4 linked regions of the Homo sapiens genome follow. The protein of the gene in region 2 purifies or fractionates together with the protein of the main gene of each other region. This does not show direct contact. Each region holds a gene or a part of one and is shown on either strand. Other genes may lie near its edges.

Region 1 (4,909 bases), on a different chromosome or scaffold from region 2:
TAAAATTAATGGTGTCTGACAGGTGGCACTTGAGACTTACTTGTCTTTGCCTTAAATAATTTATTTTCTTATGCTTTCCTTTTCATATATGCCCAAGAGGGAATGTGATATAATTTATATCCAGCTAAGATTAAAAGATATTTCAGTAAGTGTAAAATTTTAATCCTCTGATAAAAAAAGTATTGTCATAGTTTAACTGGCAGCAGTTTTTCTCTCCAGTGGCATCTTGGTGTCTCAGATTCAAAGAAACTTTTCTGTAGCAATTAAGCCTATTTAGCATTATGATGCAGTGATATATTTTTACAGAGAATTCCCATTAACCAAATTCAGGAATATGTCTTTCTACCTTCAAAGAACACCTACTGTGCTCCTTAATGTGGGTTTAATGTAGATGAATCGTGATCTCTTTTGCACATGCGTGATTTCTTTCAGTACAGTCTTAACACAGCCCAACTACTTCTAATGGGTAAGAGTTCTCCCTGCTTATAATCAATGAAATGAAAACAGCTACAGTTCCCATAAACGTGTAAATGTTTGCTCTTCACCACAGAACTATGGGAATGTTTTCTTGAGATTGTTAAATATATGAAATATTTTATTTAGAGAGAAAACTTTTACCTTAGAGCAAAGAGTTCACCGATTTTCTGCATAACTTCTTCATGAGATAGTTTCACTTTCTTCCCAGCTTTTAAAGCCTAGTTGAGAGGGAATCGGAAAAACCAAAAAACCATGTATCTCTCTTTCTAATAAGCATTAGGTCAACAGGGCAAAATCTGAAGTGGCATAATTTGGATCCTATGTAAATATTTTTTAGGATGGCTGTCTCCCAGATTAATGTCTTAACTCACCTTGAAATTTCATAATTTTATTAGGTAGAAATTGTATATTCTCTTTTTTCATTTCCCTTCTCATCAGCATTTTCAATGATATATACATTCCTAATCTCTTAGTAGAAAAGCAGGGCCTCCTTTCCGAAGTATAATTAGATTACTCTTTCACAATAAAGACACAGTTAATTACAATATGATGATTTTTAATGTATACTGAAATTTCAATATAACTTTATATGTATTTTTCATACCACTATTTTTCTCATAATTTAGCAAAACACTTTCTTAAATCAGGAAAAGTGGTCATAATTTCCATTCTCAGAGAGAAACATTTCACTTTTTTCTTTAATTCAGTTACATTAAAAATACTGCAACTGACGGGCATGGTGGCTCGTGGCCTGTAATGCTAGAACTTTGGGAGGCCGAGGCAGGAGGATCGCTTGAGCCCAGGAGTTCAAGACCAGCCTGGGCAACATGGCCAGACCCCATTTCAATTATATTAATATTAAAAAAAAAATACTGCACCAACAGAGGAAACAATTTGAAGTTTTAAAAAGTAAAAAGTAATCAATATGAAGTTTCTTAATTTGTCATTTTATATGTAACTGGGAGTTCTTAAGTTTACTGTAGTTTTCTTATTGTTTGTAATAATGTTGTTGTACTCCTAAACAATCGGCCCTCTATAAGTTCTGCAACTGCAGATTCAACCAACTGCAAATTGACAGTATTTTGAGAAAAAAGAATGGTTGCATCTGTACCGAACATGTACAAACTGTTTTTTCTTGTTATTATTTCCTAAATAATACAGTATAACAACTATTTACATAGTATTTACATTATATTAGGTATTTTAGGTAATCTAGAGATGGTTGAAAGTATACATGAGGATATGCATAGGTTATATGCAAATATATACCATTTTATATCAGGGATTTGGACACTGGTAGATTCTGGTATCCAGTGGGGTCTTGGAACAAATCTCCCATGGATACTGATGGATAGCTATATATTGTTATATTGGGAAATTCATATTTTTTACATATAAAAATCAATCCTTGAATAAGCATAAAATTGATATAATTACCTCAGGAATTGACTGAATAGATTCAATAAATTTATCCAGTGATGCTTCCCAAATTGCCAGTTTTACTGGGAAAAAAATTAATAATGGAACATTTCTTTATCATCATATTCACATGTATATAAAATACATAATTGCACAGCATCTTCACTACTATTTCAGTAATAGTTTAAGAAAAAGTACTAAAACCTTGAAAATATAATTTAAGAATAGTTAATTATCATAAAGGACAGAATTAAAGTGGATAGAGGAAACTGAATCGCTTTCCATGCCCTATTGGAAGACCAAAGCTACATTTAGTAGAACTCTTGATTTTCTAGTATTACATCTTGGAAACTGAGGAGGGTAGGGTACACCTTGATACCATGGGTAGCTCTGCAGATAGGGCGCGACTAAGACTTTCCTGGCCTCCCCTTCACTCCTCAGGACTAAGAGTAAACCTCAGAAATCTCCGAAGCCCCTCAGAGTGGGATGGACAGGACGCTGCAGCAGCCACCTAAGGTAGACTGCTGGCAAAAGAAATTCTTAAAGAACTTGTATAGTTTTATTCGGGATGTGGATCTTTCAGAACAAACTTATAGCCACTGTGACTCTGGGTCCCATTCCTATGGAACACTAGAGTATGTTTTTCTACACTGGGACCTGTGCCCAGTCACACAAGGCTGGGCTTCTCTGTCTGGATTAGAGACTATCTAAGAATAACAATCGCATAGAGAGAAGAGAAAAAAACAAAGGCTAATATAATCATCATCTAAAAAATACTTTTGGAGAGGTTAAGCTTTATTAATACAATTAATAAGGAATGAGTAACTTCAGCACAGTACTATCTTTTATACTAGATATTTTTTCTGATGGAGGGAAAAAAAGGAAAAGGAATGCTAAGGCTTTGTTGAGTATTCTGAAAATATACCAAAATCGTGACTATTTAAACTTCCCTCAGTGAAATGACAACTGTAGTACCCTATCCCATAAGCAGTAGTAACTTACCAGAAAGGCATAGAGCATTGGAGAAAGCAAACTTCTCTAGAATGGCATCATCTAAATCCAGCTCTGAATTTAACTTGATTTCCCCCCTGTGAAGTTTTGACTGTCCCCTGTGAAAAGCAAAAAGATAATACCTTCTAAATCTTAAAAAGCACTTTAACTTTTCCTTTGAAAAAGACACCATATCATCTTTCTGGAGGTCATTTTGACAATTTGTATCAAGAGTGTTACAAATGTTCTCATATCCTTTGGTCCAGGTAATTCCCTTTCTAGGAGTTTATCCTAAGGAAATAATCTAAGATGCAAAGAAAAATTTGTATACAAGAAAACTTTTTTTTTTTTTTTTGAGACAGTCTCACTCTGCCGCCCAGGCTAGAGTGCAGTGGTGCGATCTCAGCTCACTGCAACCTCAGTCTCCTAGGTTCAAGCGATTCTCCTGCCTCAGCCTCCCTAGTAGCTGGGATTACAGGCATGCGTAACCACACCCAGCTAATTTTTTTTGTATTTTTAATAGAGATAGAGTTTCACCATGTTGGCCAGGCTGGTCTTGAATTCCTGACCTCAAATGATCCACCCACCTCGGCCTCCCAAAGTGGTGCGACTACAGGTGCGAGCCACCTTGCCCAGCTGAAAACTTTTAAAAAAATGGTCAGTGTTGGCTGGGCACGGTGGCTCACGCCTGTAACCCCAGCACTCCGGGAGGCCGAGGCAGGTGGATCACGAGGTCAGGAGATTGAGACCATCCTGGCTAACATGGTGAAACCCCGTCTCTACTCAAAACACAAAATAAAATTAGCCGGGTGTGGTGGCGGGCGCCTGTAGTCCCAGCTACTCGGGAGGCTGAGGCAGGAGAATGGAGTGAACCCGGGAGGCGGAGCTTGCAGTAAGCCGAAATCACGCCACTGCACTCCAGCCTGGGAGACTGAGCAAGACTCTGTCTCCAAAAAAAAAAAAAAGGTCAGTGTTTAAGAGTAAAAAATTAGGAAATAAACCAAATGTTCAGTAGGGGTTGGCTCAGTAATAGTCACTCCACACAAGAAAAACTTAAAAGTGTGTTTTGGAAGGATAGTTAATAAAAAGGAGAACGTTCACAGTAAATTTCTATGTGAAAAAATGCTGCATATAAAACTATATATGGAGTGTAATCTAAAATCACACTGACATGATGGGGTTGGGGAGGGAGGCAAGGAAGTTGTGAAAAATGAGTATGTGACTGTGGAGAATCCTAGACAGGGGACAGGGGAAGAGCGGAATGTGTGAATATAAACATCACAAGCAAATGGAAAAAAGACAGGGTAAACCTTCACAAAAGATGTCAGACAAGAAGTGACGGCCAAAGGGAGGGGGACAAGGGGCCTGATGGAGGGCGGCATCTGCTATGACAGCCTCAGATGGAGGAAGGAAAGCAAAGACAGCAGTCACAAGAGGTCTTTTTTTTTGAGACGGAGTCTTGCTCTGTCACCCAGACTGGAGTGTAGTGGCGTGATCTTCGCTCACTGCAACCTCCGCCTCCTGGGTTCCAGCGATTCTCCTGCCTCAGCCTCCTGAGTAGCTGGGATTACAGGAGTGCACCACCACATCCAGCTAATTTTTATATTTGTAGTACAGACAGGGCTTCACCATGTTGGCCAGGCTGGTCTTGAACTCCTGACCTCAAGTGATCTGCCCGCCTTGGCCTCTCAAAGTGTTGGGATTACAGGCATGAGCCACTGTGCTTGGTCACAAGATGCTTTATGAGTAAACTGGGCCCATGCCACAGAGCTGAGCAGATCCCTGGAATCATGGCAGAACTCACATAATAACCATGTAGGTGGCAGCCAGGACAGTCTTTCTGACGAAACAAAATAACTGACTCTGGGATCCTAAGCACTGAGGATTTTACTCCTCACAGACTGTACAGTAACGTGTGTGTGTGTGTGTGGATAAGCGTACACACACACACACACAAGGGTCTAGCAGTAGTTGGATATGGAAGTATTTGGTTGGTGCAAAAGTAATCGCGGTTTTTGCCATT
Region 2 (4,909 bases):
AGCAGTAAGGATTTCAAGTAGGAAGACTTTGGAGGGTTTTAAGCAGGAGAGTGACTTAGTGCAAATTGATTTATGCTTGTTTTGTACAAGCTGGACTTTAGGGAAGCAGTGTGGAGGAAGAGGAATTGGTTAAGAGCCTGTTGCAATTGGCAGATAAAAGGTATTGCTCACTTGGCTAGGATGGTAGCAGTGGAGAAGTGGTTTTACCTGGCTTTTCAGCACCTGAATGGTCTGTAAGAATGGCACTAGCATTCAAGTCATTTCAATGTGGACTTTCCAAGGTACAGTTGCAGGATGAGAGTTAGAGTCTGTTGTAGGGTATGGAACTTGTACGTGCGCAATACACACTACTTAATGTTAAGGAGAGTACACCAGAGGGAAGGCAGCTTTGGCATTCTCTTGGGCACAGGAAAGTAGCATTGTGGTGATCAGGAGAGTCTAATGAAGCTAAAACTGTCACCCAGGAATGTTAAAAAGAGAACATAATGAGTATTCTGCTCTGCTTTAGAGCTCTGTATGGTGTTATTATCCTTCTCTAAAAGATAAATGTTGCTCTCAAGAGTGAGTAATGAAAATACTAGAGCACATCATACAATAAATGAAATCATGAAACTTTAAATGTATGCAACATGTGCTGTGACCAGGAAGGAATGGCAGTGTTGAACACCAAACTAGATGGAGTAAAATTGGTATCAGGGTGGAAATAATATAGAACAATAATACTGTGGAGATACCTCAGGTAAATTATATAGTTTCAATAGTCAGGAAAAAAGATTTTTTAATTAATCTGGGTTATTCTTTTAGAAAAAGCGTTAATCTCAAAAAGCCATCCACATACACCCCCATTATAATGAACCCTTAGCTGCAAGACTGGGGAAGAATAAGCTTTGCATCTGTGGCCACTTTTTCTGACATAGGCTCTGTTAAGATACATAGCATTGAAGGATTTCCTAGCTAACTATGTAGTATGTGTGTACCTTAATAGCAGAAATCACAACGTAACTACAGAGATGAACTAAAATTTGATTAGATTCTGGGATACCACGCTGCCTGACCTGAGGGAATAAACAATTTAGGGAAAACAGAAAAAGCAACTTAGGCACTCATTTATTTTCTCCCTTGATTCCCACCGCAGGTCTCTGAGATGGGACTGTTTCTGGGATCCTCATTTGAAAAACAAGAAGAGTGAGGCCACCTTGGGCACAGTGCTGTTGTAGAATTGATTTACCTTGACTTGTTTTGGATCTATGGGATGTCTGGTTCTTTTGTAAAAACACAACTTTGCCAGCCAGACTAGAAACGCTTTCTGTGTTTTTCATCAAAAATCTTGGACACTGTCTCTAGAGGTCTTCTCTGGCAAGGACTGTTTTCCTCTTTAACTTTGGTTCTTGCATTCCATATGTAAGCAAAGTTCAACTAGTTAGGAAAAAGTCATTCTAGAAAAAAAGACTGTAATTGTGAGACCAGATGGTAAGCATTATTCAGCTGATGAGGTTGGATAGATTTGAGGGAAGGTGTGGTAATATGATCTCGATCTGCAGCTGTGACCTGTTGTTCCAAAACAGCCTCATTCCTCCCTGCCTTTTGCGTCTGCATTCCAGCACCTCTCCCTCCATCTTTGTGGGCATTGGGGTTCTCACAGATTGCTTTGACAGATGCATCAGGGAGGAATAAAGCTTGTTCAAGGAAGAACAACCCACGGATCTGTTTTGAATATCCTCCACCCCATGTTACTTGTAATATTGGCAAATCAGGGGACAATATAACCACTTTTGTTCAGCGTGCTGTGAGACAGTTTCCCATGACACAAATTGCCATGAGCCTATTTAGATGTAATTAAGGCATTTCCATTAGATGTCTTGCAGGTACCTCAAACTAAACACATACTGAACCCAGCTCATCAGCTGTCTTCTTCTCCTTACCTCCCTTACAAAACACCAGTAAACATTTTCTCCTGTGTTTCCTCCTTCAACCAAAGTGAAAATTTAGAAGTCATTCTAGACTTCTCTGTCTCATCCATCTCATGGAGTCCGTCTCCTAAATACTTCTCCAGTCCTTCTATATCTCTTCCCAGTGCTGCTGTCCTGATTCTGGCTTTCATTATCTCTCTTCTGGAATTTGGAAATAGTTTTGCCTTTACTTTATTTTCTTCTTCCACTCTGTCACCAATGTTGTGTCTTAAATGAAAATCTGACCAGTAAGGCCAATGAGATTACAATCCCATAGTGGGAGGTGTGGGTGAAGGTCTTTATTTTTTAAAGAAGCTCTGCAGACTATTGTAATGTGTGGCTAGGGTTGAGAATGTATGCTGGACTGGACAAATTTCAAATAGCCAGATATACAAGACCTTTGTGACCTTGGACATCTTATCTTCTGCTACTTCTGTTTCTGATGTTACAATAAATAACCACACTTCTTCATCCTTTTTTTTTTTTTTTTTTTTTTTTGAGATGGAGTCTTGCTCTGTCACTCAGGCTGGAGTGTGGTGGTGTGAGCTTGGCTCACTGCAACCTCTGCCTCCTGGGTTCAAGTGATTCTCCTGCCTCAGCCTCCCAAGTAGCTGGGACCACAGGTGTGCGCCACCACGCCTGGCTAATTTTTGTATTTTTAGTAGAGATGCGGTTTCACCGTTGTTGGCCAGGCTGGTCTCAAACTCCTGACCTCAGGTGATCCACCCACCTCGGCCTCCCAAAGTGCTAGGATTACAGGCGTGAGCTCCCGCACCGGGCCCTTCCTCTTACTTTCATACTGTTGCATACCATTCATCGGTGTTGTGCCTGGGTTTGTGGGATTCTTCTATCAGAAATGTGCTGGAAATATACAAACTACTCAAAGCACTATGACTACTGAGTACTATATTTCATTCCCCATCTTGGTAGGTGATGGCATTGACCCATGAGAACCTCCAAAATGATTTGCTTCCCTATGTTGTCTCTCTATTCCCTCTTGTTATCTTCTTCATACCCAACTGCAAGTCCTAGGAATCTCTTTATAATCAGGATAGTATTGTCTCAGAGCCTTTTGACATGCCAGCTCTTTCTTGTCCAAAACACATTTTCACATTCTGCCCTTGGAGAATCTATCCTAGGGCTCTGCAACGCCAGCGTGCCACTCACGTAAGTCATGGTGGTCAGGTAGATGCACAGTTTATAGAGGGCTTTTACAAGTTGTATCTCAGTTTGATCCTCACTGTGCCATGTGGAGGAGGCAGGGAGCTATTATTTCTCCACTTCAGAGGTGCTGAGATGGAGGTGTTTTAACTCTTATCAACCTTTCAGGTGTACGCTGAACTCTCTGTAGATTACATGTTGATGGGGTCCACAATGCACATCTCAAGTCCTGTAACCTGATTGAATTATGGTTAGCTCCTTACTATTAAAGGGGTTTAGGTGTGGTTTATTATTGTTTTCAGAAGCTCAAGGGGAAATCCTTAATTTGAGCAAAATTTATTTCAGAATATCCATTCATTGTGGGTTAGGAACCTCATCCCTTACAATTTTCCAGCCCCCATTTTCGTCTTCTGTAGTGCATCCTCATCTTTTGGTCAGTTTGATCCTTGAGGCCTCTGTGAAATAGAAAGGAGGGGGAGGGGGGCGCAGAATTTCCATATGATTGGTTTTAGATGTTGATTTCGGAGGCCTGTACTGTGAGTCACTGAAATTATTGGATTGAGTCTTGAAGATCCAAACACAGAGTGTTGGGACTGTGTGGTTGGGCTTAATCCTAGTACAAAAACCAGTTCCTTTCAGTGAAGAAGATAAAGGAGAGGAATCCAGGTTCCTCAATGAAGCATCCATACATAGAAGCTCCTGTGTCAGGCTGTGGTGTTTCCCACTTCCTGCCTTCAGTCTAGCAGGGTTCCTTGCATTTCTTGGTCTAAAAGTAAGGCTTATGGGCTCTTTCTGGAAAGATCTTACACCTTTTAAATTTTAACATGGGAAGAAATTATAAACAACAAATGACAGTGTTTGAATTCTCTCACTTTTGAGCAAAGTCAAGCAGCTTAAGTATGAGAGAATAAAGATATTCCCTTCTGTTGCCCAGAAGGAGAAAAAGATCATTTTATTTAAAATCTAGCTATTGAGATGCATGTTCCTTGTGTCTAATCAAGTTCTGAATTTGAACTCAATTAGAGCTTTGATAAAAGGAAGGGGAAAGGAAACTTGAAAGAATGCTGTTCCATTCATGAAGGGACTGTGTGTTTTTAGTTTCCAAGTAAATGGCATAATGGGACCATGCATTTTCCATCCAAGCATTTTCCATCCTGAGAATAATTCCCTTCCTGGCTTCTCAATGAATAATGCATTATTTCTGAAACCCAAGAGGCATTCCTTTGATTTTCCTTTATGTTTAGCTTTCTGAGTGATTTTCAAGCAAGGAAATTCAAGGACTTGGAATGAATGCTTTATTAACATTTTTATTGAAGTTCAAATTGCTCCTTGGCTATTATCTCCTGATATTTGAAATATTTTTTTCTCTCCAAGGAAAGTCTAAGGTGTTGTATTTATTAGAAAATGAAGTACCTTGGCCAATCTTCAAAGTGAACAGCAGTTTAAAACCAATACACATTTGTGTTGTAGAACAAAGAGCTTTATGGGGGTACTTTTCTCCTTTATTTTCATTTCCCTGCTGAAAAGTTTCACAAAAGAAAGCTCAGATTCAAAAGTGGGCTGTTTGGAGACTAAATCTCATTTGTTTACATTTTGTGAAACTAATTCCTTGAGGCTGGACCAAATCCATGACCCCAGTCCAAGCCTGCATCCACCAAAGCCAGCGCCATTTAAATCTGAAGATGCAAATGCCCTTCTGGGGTTGCTCCTACTTCCGCTCTGCCTGATTACACATATGTAGCCTGCCTGATTACACATATGGGGCCCATTAGGTGAGGTGTAATGGGACACAGTGGTGC
Region 3 (4,909 bases), on a different chromosome or scaffold from region 2:
AGAGGAAGACTGAAGGGGATTTGCAAGGAGATCACCAGAAAGAAGTTGCTTTGGATATAACTTCTTCTGAGGAGAAGCCTGATGTTAGTTTCGATAAAGCAATTAGAGATGAAGCAATATACCATTTTAGGCTTTTGAAGGATGAAATTGTGGATCATTGGAGAGGACCGGAAGGCCACCCTCTGCATGAGGTCTTGCTGGAACAAGCCAAGGTTGTCTGGCAATTCCGGGGGAAAGAAGATTTGGATAAGTGGACAGTGACTTCTGATAAGACGATTGGAGGCAGAAGTGAAGTGTTTTTGAAAATGGGCAAGAATAACCAAAGTGCACTGCTATATGGAACTCTGAGCTCTGAGGCGCCTCAGGACGGGGAGTCTACCCGAAGTGGGTACTGTGCAATGATATCCAGGATTCCAAGGGTAGGTGAGGCCCAGGAGCCATCGTTTTCTAGTAAACAGGGGTGAACTTCATTGTAGCATAAACTATAGAAGATAGCTTTTGTTTCTGTAAATGAAAACACCTGGCATGTTATATTTGGCACCTCACCTGTGTCTGGGGATAAGTAACTATTGGCACAAGTGTGAAGTGGAAGCACAAGGGGGAAGTGGTTTCTGAGGAGGAGGAGTTAACTTGTTTCTGCGCATTGCTTTGGGCCAGGAACGAGCATTGTTATGTTTCAGGAATCCTGAGAGGTTAGACATTTGAAAGATTTTTGGAGAGATTTTCATCTCCTCTAAAAAAGACCACAACCTCTGTAATGACCAGGGGTTTTGTAGAGTGGATGTAGGGTTAGCCTGTGGCTTTCTTTTTTTTTTTTTGAAACGGAGTCTTGCTCTGTCGCCCAGGCTAGAGTGCAGTGGCGTGATCTCGGCTCACTGCAACTTCCGCCCTCCAGGTTCAAGCGATTCTCCTGCCTCAGCCTCCTGAGTAGCTGGGACTACTGGTGCACACCACCACGCCCAGCTAATTTTTGTATTTTTAGTAGAGACAGGGTTTCACCATGTTGGCCAGGCTGGTCTTGAACTCCTGACCTCAGGTGATCCACCCCACCCTTGGCCTCCCAGAGTGCTGGACATGGTGGTGCATGCCTGTAATTCCAGGTACTTGGGAGGCTGAGGCAGGAGAATTGCTTGAACTCTGGAGGCAGAGGTTGCAGTGAGCTGAGATCGTGCCATTGCACTCCAGTCTGGGCAACAAGAGCGAAACTTTGTCTCAAAAAAAAAAAAAAAAAAAAAAGGCCGGGCGCAGTGGCTCATGCCTGTAATCCCCACACTTTGGGTGGCCAAGGTGGGCGGATCACCAGGTCAGGAGATCGAGACCATCCTGGCTAACACGGTGAAACCCCGTCTCTACTAAAAATACAAAAAAATTAGCCGGGTGTGGTTTTGGGCGCCTATAGTACCAGCTATTCGGGAGGCTGAGGCAGGAGAATGGTGTGAACCCAGGAGGCAGAGCTTGCAGTGAGCTGAGATTGCACCACTGCACTCCAGCCTGGGTGACAGAGCAAGACTCCGTCTCAAAAAAAAAAAAAGAAAAGAAAAGAAAAGAAAAGAAAAAGTCATTGCTCCATACGACCAGGTAAAGGAAATACATTCATTTCCATTCATTGAACACAGGTGAGTGCCTACCCCATGTAAACACTGTCCTGGGCCAGTTGTGTGTTGAACATTACCTTAGAAACATATAACTATGTCAGTATTTTGTGCTAAAATAATAATCACTGGGTTTATGTGCCTTCTTATGGGGCAGAAAGTCAGAAAAATGGTTAGTGCATCCTGTTGATGATGCTGACTTGGTGATGACTCACATTTTGCTAATAATGGAGAATGAGGTACAATGAACTTTACTTTCAATATCTTAGGGTGCTTTTGAGAGGAAGATGTCTTACGATTGGTCCCAGTTCAATACTCTGTATCTCCGTGTACGTGGGGATGGTCGGCCTTGGATGGTGAATATCAAGGAGGACACAGATTTCTTCCAGAGGACGAATCAGATGTATAGTTACTTCATGTTCACCCGCGGGGGACCCTACTGGCAGGAGGTCAAGGTAACAGCATAAATCTTCATTGTTTATAAAAATGAGGTCTTGGCTGGGTGAGGTGGCTCACGCCTATAATCCCAGCAATTTGGGAGGCCGAGGTGGGTGGATCACCTGAGGTCAGGAGTTCGAGACCAGGTTGGCCAACATGGTGAAACCTAGTCTCTGATCGTGCCATTGTACTCCAGCCTGGGCAACAGAGTGAGATGAGACTCTGTCTCAAAAAAAAAAAAAAAAAAAAAAAAAAGTCTTGGAGATGATTGTTACATTGTAGTTTCTTTTTTGTTACTAATCTTTCTTGGAAGGTGGGGGTGGGTGGGTAGAAGAAAGGTTAAGAGACATAAATGAATTTTGTTTCATTAATATAAATGTTAACATACTAACTAGTGAATATTTTTGATATGGATGTGGCCAGGTCCATGCTAAGTCACAGGCACATCTCTGCTCTGTGTCCAAATAGATGGGGTTTGTTTGTTTTTTAGAAGTTTCTGCCATTTCATGTCTTCCAGGCAACTCTGCTAAAGTTGGTGTCCTAGGCCTGCGTGGTGGCTCACACCTGTAATCCCAGCACTTTGGGAGGCCAAGGCGGACGGATCACTTGAGGTTGGGAGTTCGACACCAGCCTGACCAACATGGAGAAACCCTGTTGTCTCTACTAAAAAAAATACAAAATTAGCTGGGCGTGGTGGCGCATGCCTGTAATCCCAGCTACTCGGGAGGCTAAGGCAGGATAATTGCTTGAACCCAGGAGGCGGAGGTTTCGGTGAGCCGAGATCGTGTCATTGCACTCCAGCCTGGGCAACAAGAGCCAAACTTTGTCTCAAAAAAAAAAAAAAAAAAAAAAAAAAGTAGTGTCCTAGGCCAGGCGTGGTGGCTCATGTCTGTAATCCCAGCACTTTGGGAGGCCAAGGTGGGTAAATCACCTGAGATCAGGAGTTTGAGACCAGCCTGGCTAACATGGCAAAACCCCATCTCTACTAAAAATACAAGAATTAGAGGCCAGGCGCGGTGGCTCATGCCTGTAATCCCAGCACTTTGGGAGGCCGAGGTGGGCAGATCACGAGGTCAAGAGATCGAGACCATCCTGGCCAACATGGTGAAACTCTGTCTCTACTAAAAATAAAAAAATTAGTTGGGTGTGGTGGCGTCGTCCCAGCTACTCAGAAGGCTGAGGCAGGAGAATCGCTTGAACCTGGGAGGCAGAGGTGGCAGTGAGCCGAGATGGGCCACTGCTCTCCAGCCTGGCGACAGAGTGAGACTCCATCTCAAAAAAAAAAAGGCCGGCCGCGGTGGCTTACGCCTGTAATCCCAGCACTTTGGGAGGCTGAGGCGGGTGGATCACGAGGTCAGGAGATGATGGAGACCATTCTGGCTAACACAGTGAAACCCCGTCTCTACTAAAAAAATACAAAAAAAATTAGCCGGGCTTGGTGGCAGGTGCCTGTAGTCCCAGCTACTCAGGAGGCTGAGGCAGGAGAATGGCGTGAACCCGGGAGGCAGAGCTTGCAGATCGTGCCACTGCACTCCAGGCTGGGCGGGAGACTTCGTCTCAAAAAAAAAAAAAAAAAAAAAAAAATTAGCCGGGCATGGTGGTGTGTGCCTGTAATCCCAGCTACTAGGGGGGCTGAGGCAGGAGGATTGCTTGAACTTGGGAGGTGGAGGTTGCAGTAAGCTGAGACCGTGCCACTGCACTCCAGCCTGGGCAACAGAGCAAGACTCCGTCTCAAAAAAAAAAAAAAAAAAAAACTCAACAAGAAAGTCCCCATTTTGCTCATGTCATATACTTGAGGGTCATCCTGAATTCTTCTCCTTTGCCCCACATCCAGTCTATTAGCGAGTCCTGTCACCTCTGCTTCCAAAATACACTCAGCAGCTGACCATTTCTAGCCATCTCTTCTACTCCCACCCTGGTCCAGGTGTTTGGATTATTGCAGCAGCTTCATTATTGATTTCCCTGTTTGTCTTCTTGCCCCACTAAAATCCTGGCTCCACAGCAGCCAGAGTTATCTTTCTGAAGCATAGTTCAGATGACATCATTTACATGCTTGTAAGCATGTAAATGTACCTCCTAAGCATGTAAGCTGTATTAGTCTGTTCTCGTGCTGCTGCTATGAAGAAATACCTGAGACTAGGTAATTAATAAAGGAAAGAGGTTTAATTGACTCACAGTTCTGCAGGGCTGGGGAGGCCTTAGGTAACTTATAAAATCATGGCAGAAGGGGAAGTAAACACATCCTCCTTCACATGGTGGCAGGAAAGAGAATGAGAGCCGAATGAAGGGGTAATCTCCTTATAAAACCATCAGATCTTGTGAGAACTCACTGTCACTAGAACAGTATGGGGGAAACCACACCCATGGTTCAGTTAACTTCACCTGGTCCCTCCCTTGACACATGGGGATTACTACAATTCAAGATGAGATTTTGGGTGGGGAGACAGCCAAACCATATCAGGACCCTTCAGTGGTTTCCCATTACAATTCGAATAAAGTCCAGGCTGGGCTAGGTGGCTCATGCTTTTAATCCCAGCACTTTGGGAGGCTGAGATGGGCAGATCACTTGAGGTCAGGAGTTTGAGACCAGCCTGGTCTACATGGTGAAATCTTGTGTCTACTAAAAATACAAAAAATTAGCAGCAGGTGGTGGCACACGCCTGTAGTCCCAGCTCCTCAGGAGGCTGAGGCAGGAGAATCGCTTGAACCTGAGAAGTGGAAGTTGCAGTGAGCCAAGATCGCGCCACTGTACTCCACCCTGGGTGACAGAGTAAGACTCCATCTCAAGAAAAAAAAAAAAAAAAAAAAAGAATAAAGTCCAAACTCCTGCACATGGCCTATGGGCCTACAATATCGGACCCCTGTCTTCATCTTCCATC
Region 4 (4,909 bases), on a different chromosome or scaffold from region 2:
GTATTTCTTCTTTTCTTATAGGAAAAATATTTAAAAATAATAAAATAGTCTGAAGGCCTCCACATACTTTGAGAGTTGTATTTTAGCTCTATGTGAAAACCAATCATGTGACCACAGGAATTCTCTTAATTTATTCTTCAGGTGAAGTGCACCGGTTTAGAACCTCTGACGTCTCTCAAGCCACTTTAGCCAGTGTAGCCCCAGTATTTACTGTGGTGAGTATGTACAGTACATTGGAAATCGTACAGAAAGTGCTTCCCATACATAAGTTAACTCGTTGGACTGTTGGCCAAGATACTACTTATTTTGAGCTTTATAATCATCATAGCTACATGTCGTGGCTGTTGTGCCTGGCCAGTGACCTAAGTGCCTGCTAGATTTGCTTAACAATGATCTTGAACCTTTGCTAATGACTGCAGCTCCCCTTTTAATACTAGAACAGGTCAATCACAATTCAGAGCCATAAAGAGGCTTGAACCTATGTTCTGCAAGATAATACGCAGGCAGAAGCATTTTGAAGGCAGCAGAGAGTAGTATTTAAAAATGCATGCTTTGAAAGGTCATGATCTCTAACTTTTCTCTGAAATGGTTCGGGGGTGGGGATGAGGGGGGAAATGAATGAATAAGATAATGTATCACACGTATTTTTAGAGAAAGAAGGCTGTTGGGGCAAAATGTTAACAAAGGTGACTCTAGGTGAAAGCTCTATGGGAATTGGTTGTAATATTCTTGCAACTTCTTTGTAGGCTTTTTTTTTTTTTCCAAAAAAAAAAAAAGTCTTGATAAAAAGGTGTGCCGGCCGGGCGTGGTGGCTCACGCCTGTAATTCCAACACTTTGGGAGGCCGAGGTGGGCAGATCATGAGGTCAGGAGATTGAGACCATCCTGGCTAACACAGTGAAACCCCATCTCTACTAAAAATACAAAAAATTAGCCAGGCCTGGTGGTGGGCGCCTGTAGTCCCAGCTACTTGGGAGGCTGAGGCAGGAGAATGGCATGAACCCAGGAGGCGGAGCTTGCAGTGAGCCTGGATCATGCCACTGCACTCCAGCCTGGCAGACAGAGTGAGACTCCATCTCAAAAAAAAAAAAAAAAAGGTGTGCCTATTCTGAGCCAGACTTCCTAAATTCCAATCTCACTCTGCCTCTTATTGACTAGGTGGCCTTGGACAAGTTACAATAACATCTTTGTGCCTTAGTTTTCTCATCTGAAAACTGAGCATAACCTACCATATAGAATTGTTATGAGGATTAAATTAACTCATATATAGAAAGCCCTTAAACTAGTGCCTCACATATAGTAAGCCTCAAATATATTTCATTAGGATTATTTAGGCTTGTTAACATAAGAGCTTTTCTTTATAAACTATATAAAATTAAATAACCCCCAGAATTGCGTTTAAAAGTTACCACTGTTATTCATTGTTCTGGAAGAGTTGGCCAATTTAGTTAAGAATACAAAATCAGGGCCAGGCACGGTGGCTCACGCCTGTAATCCCAACACTTTGGGAGGCTGAGGTGGGCATATCATTTGAGGTCAGGAGTTTTAGACCAGCCTGACCAACATGGTGAAACCCCGTCTCTACTAAAAAACAAAAAAATTAGCCAGGCGTGGTGGTGCACGCCTGTAGTCCCAGCTACTCAGGAGGCTGAGGCAGGAGAATCGCTTGAACCTGGGAGGTGGAGGTTGCAGTGAGCCAAGATTGCACCACTGCACTCCAGCCTGGGCAACAGAGCAAGACTCTGTCTCAAAAAAAGAATACAAAGTCAAACGTGAAATACTGAAAGTTAGTTCTTTGCAGGTGAAATAATTGCAAAGAACACTTAAGAAATTCATAAAGCTATGGAATCTGAGAAAGAAAAATTTAATTTGTGCTGTTTGAAATAGTTTAGAAAGTGAGCTGGTTACAAAGTAAATATTTTTTTCTTTATAATTTGTATGATTTAAAAAATTTTTTTAAGTTCCATTAAAGAAAAAAAGGGTACATATAAATATTGAGATGCAAAAATATTCAGCATATGTTGCTAATTTGGAAGGAGGGAGACTGCAAAGCAGTATGTATAAGTATGTTTTATTAGGAAAATGTTTGGAAGGATATTCAGTGAAATATTGACATGGTTTTCTCTAAAATTTGTCATTTCAGGTGATTAATATAGTTTTATGTTACGTATATTTATTTTCAAATTTTCTGCAGTGGGTTTATGTATTTGTGAAATATAAGGCTGAAAGCTAGACTATTACACAAATATAAAGCTTTCTTTGATATAAATTTTCCTTTAATGTTCTATGGAACTTATATATTCATATTAATTTTATTTTTGCTGATGAGAAGCAAGATAAAATATATATATTGTGAGTTTTTATTGTGTGATTAACACAGCATGTATATTTCCATGGTAGTAACCCAAGACCTATATTGTACTTAAACCTGTATGTTGGAGTGTCTTTCTGAAATGTGTCTGTCGTAGTAAGTAGTACAGCTCAGCACATAGTGATTCATTAAATGTTTCACAGCTTCAAACTTGACTGTGGATAAACATCACTGAAAGATAGTCCCCTACTTTGCAGGAAATAGGTGCATTTTCTGTATCAAATCCTCTCTTCAAACTATCAGAAGGGGTTCTGTAAATCTTTATTGATTCTGCAACACCCACCAAAGAGACTTTGGCCTCATGTAGACATTTAGATTCACAAGGCGGGCCATACTTGGTCCCAGTCTACTCAGAAGGATAAGGGACAGGAGAAACAACAGGGTAGTGTTAGGTGTTTCCTCTTCAAAAGAAGTCTTTGCAGCCATCCAGGGGCTTCTCTGGTCCTCTGAGTGATCGCTCAGTGACAAGGAGATAAGATTCTCAAAGGTGGATGTGAGATTCATCTTGGCTCGAATCCCCATGCCCCGTAGTGACAGTATCCCTTGTAACCATCGCAGGGGCACAGTGTCCAGGATTCTGGCTGGGAACATGGCCACAAGAGCCACCACAATCAGGAAAGGGCAAAGAGAGCTATTGCTTTTCACCTGATAACTGTAATTTGTTCGTCTTCCCAGTCCAGTGCAGTCTACCAGTCAATGGTCATTTTTACCATAAGGATTGTTACCTAGTAACAACACAACTGATACTCCTTTATCAACTTTCTAGAGGAACCAAGATAGAAAGTTAAACCCAGGTCTGATTTTTCCTATCAAAGGAAAAAAGGATTTTAAAAAAACCCTTAACTCATAACTGGATTTAATCTAAAGAAGGTCAGTAATGGTTTATATTTGCATTTCAACATTTTGGGGATATTACTTACAATACCATAAATTCTTAACTAAATTAGCAATACCATAAGTAGCATTCTAATTTGAAAGAAAATCATAATTTGTTTTATTCTCTATTTTCAGACAAAATTTGACAAACAGGGAAACGTTACTTCTTTTGGTGAGTGATTAGCATTCTAAATCATTTTTTAAACATTTAATGAGTGAATCTGATAGAAATCAAGAAATTGTAGTATTTTGAGTAAAATATTCTTTGCATATACAGGTGTGTTGAAAGAGATCTTTCTTCAGCATTTGTCCATCAGTCTTAATTGGAGCTGGCAATACTCAGACTGTGTGTATTCTCCCAGAATTGTTTTCTTCTAGCAGGAGCCACTTTTTGCTCTAACAGGCTATTGAAGGAATATTTGGGAGAGCAGAGGCTGGTGTAGAACTGGAGCCCAGAGACACACTCTTTTTCTCTTTTGTCTCTCTTGTTGGCGTCCCTTTCACTGCCCTCATTCATTCTCCTGAAGCATGTTTAAGGCAGAGTCACATAATACCACTGACATTGCAGTGGGTGACAAAAGATGAACAGGGCCATGTCACTGCATGGCAGCCACATGGAACTCTGCTGCTGATGGCTCTCTGTGGACAGCTACTTTAAAAAGTGAGACTAGGCATTACTTTACAGTGTGACTTCAGATGTGAGTTTCACATCTCCCTTGAGAATGAATCAGTCTCAGGTAATAAATTCAGCTTTTCTCATTTTTGTATTAGTCTAAGAACAAAGAAAATCAAGCTTATCTGTTCACATATATAAAATACTGAAGATGATGTTGTAGTAAAAATAGAAAATATAGTTGTGTACAGTTTATATTTAAGAGAGATAACCTGTCTCTAGAGCTGGACATTTATAGGTTCTAATGATGCATAGTTGTGGTTTCTGTATTAGTCTCAAGGGTCTTCTAAGTAGTGAGAAAGTTATGAGGTATAGATAAGAAAATCATTAGTTTGACTCTATTTAGCCCGAGTATGTTTTCTAGGTAAAAATGGATATTAAAAGACTTAATTTTAGTTTTTGTTTCTGGTAGTAACCAAAAATTGTCTTGATGGTGGTGGGAGGACTGCTCTGATGGAAAAATCTAAGCCATTTAATGTATTTGGTTTAGCCCTCTCTGTTTATTTCTTTTATAGAAAGGAAGAAAACTGAATTATACCAAGAGTTAGGTCTTCAAGCCAGAGATTTGAGATTTCAGCATGTAATGAGTATCACAGTCAGAAACAATAGGATTATCATGAGAATGGAGGTAAAATATTTTATTTTCATCTATGTTTCTCCAATACAATCTTATAAAAGTTACCTTCTAACTATCTTGATTAGTATCTAGGTTAAAAGTAATTTTGGAATAGAAATAGCTACCTGAAACATAGGATGTTTTATAGCTTAATATGCTATTATGAGTAGAACTCATTTTATATGGATTATATGCACATGTTCAATAGGCATAACACTGCTGTGTTTTAAGTTGGAAAAGCTCTGACTGTGGTGTTCATTCTCACTGTTGGGATTTACTCTCTAGTTCTGGAAACTATAAGACAATCCTGATTTATAATAGATATATATCCAATTGTGTACAGTTACATGTAATTATAGTATAACCTGAGCTAC

The links.
Region 1: the proteins of LPAR1 (region 2) and RMND1 purify together in Homo sapiens (affinity purification with mass spectrometry; 3 studies listed by BioGRID and IntAct, with this or other methods). This does not show direct contact.
Region 3: the proteins of LPAR1 (region 2) and NDUFAF1 purify together in Homo sapiens (affinity purification with mass spectrometry; 4 studies listed by BioGRID and IntAct, with this or other methods). This does not show direct contact.
Region 4: the proteins of LPAR1 (region 2) and MRS2 purify together in Homo sapiens (affinity purification with mass spectrometry; 3 studies listed by BioGRID and IntAct, with this or other methods). This does not show direct contact.

What each region holds. Positions count from the first base shown.
Region 1 is NC_000006.12:151,420,627-151,425,535, forward strand, and holds part of RMND1 (required for meiotic nuclear division protein 1 homolog), read right to left. Parts: intron 3,006-4,909; coding exon 2,899-3,005; intron 1,980-2,898; coding exon 1,915-1,979; intron 696-1,914; coding exon 619-695; intron 1-618. UniProt on the Homo sapiens protein: Required for mitochondrial translation, possibly by coordinating the assembly or maintenance of the mitochondrial ribosome.
Region 2 is NC_000009.12:110,876,956-110,881,864, reverse strand, and holds part of LPAR1 (lysophosphatidic acid receptor 1), read left to right. Parts: intron 1-4,909.
Region 3 is NC_000015.10:41,391,997-41,396,905, reverse strand, and holds part of NDUFAF1 (complex I intermediate-associated protein 30, mitochondrial precursor), read left to right. Parts: coding exon 1-419; intron 420-1,861; coding exon 1,862-2,047; intron 2,048-2,547; exon of another isoform or gene 2,548-2,801; intron 2,802-4,909. UniProt on the Homo sapiens protein: As part of the MCIA complex, involved in the assembly of the mitochondrial complex I.
Region 4 is NC_000006.12:24,405,027-24,409,935, forward strand, and holds part of MRS2 (magnesium transporter MRS2 homolog, mitochondrial isoform b precursor), read left to right. Parts: intron 1-141; coding exon 142-215; intron 216-3,381; coding exon 3,382-3,418; intron 3,419-4,434; coding exon 4,435-4,547; intron 4,548-4,909. UniProt on the Homo sapiens protein: Magnesium transporter that mediates the influx of magnesium into the mitochondrial matrix and regulates magnesium metabolism. Also permeable to calcium, sodium and potassium ions.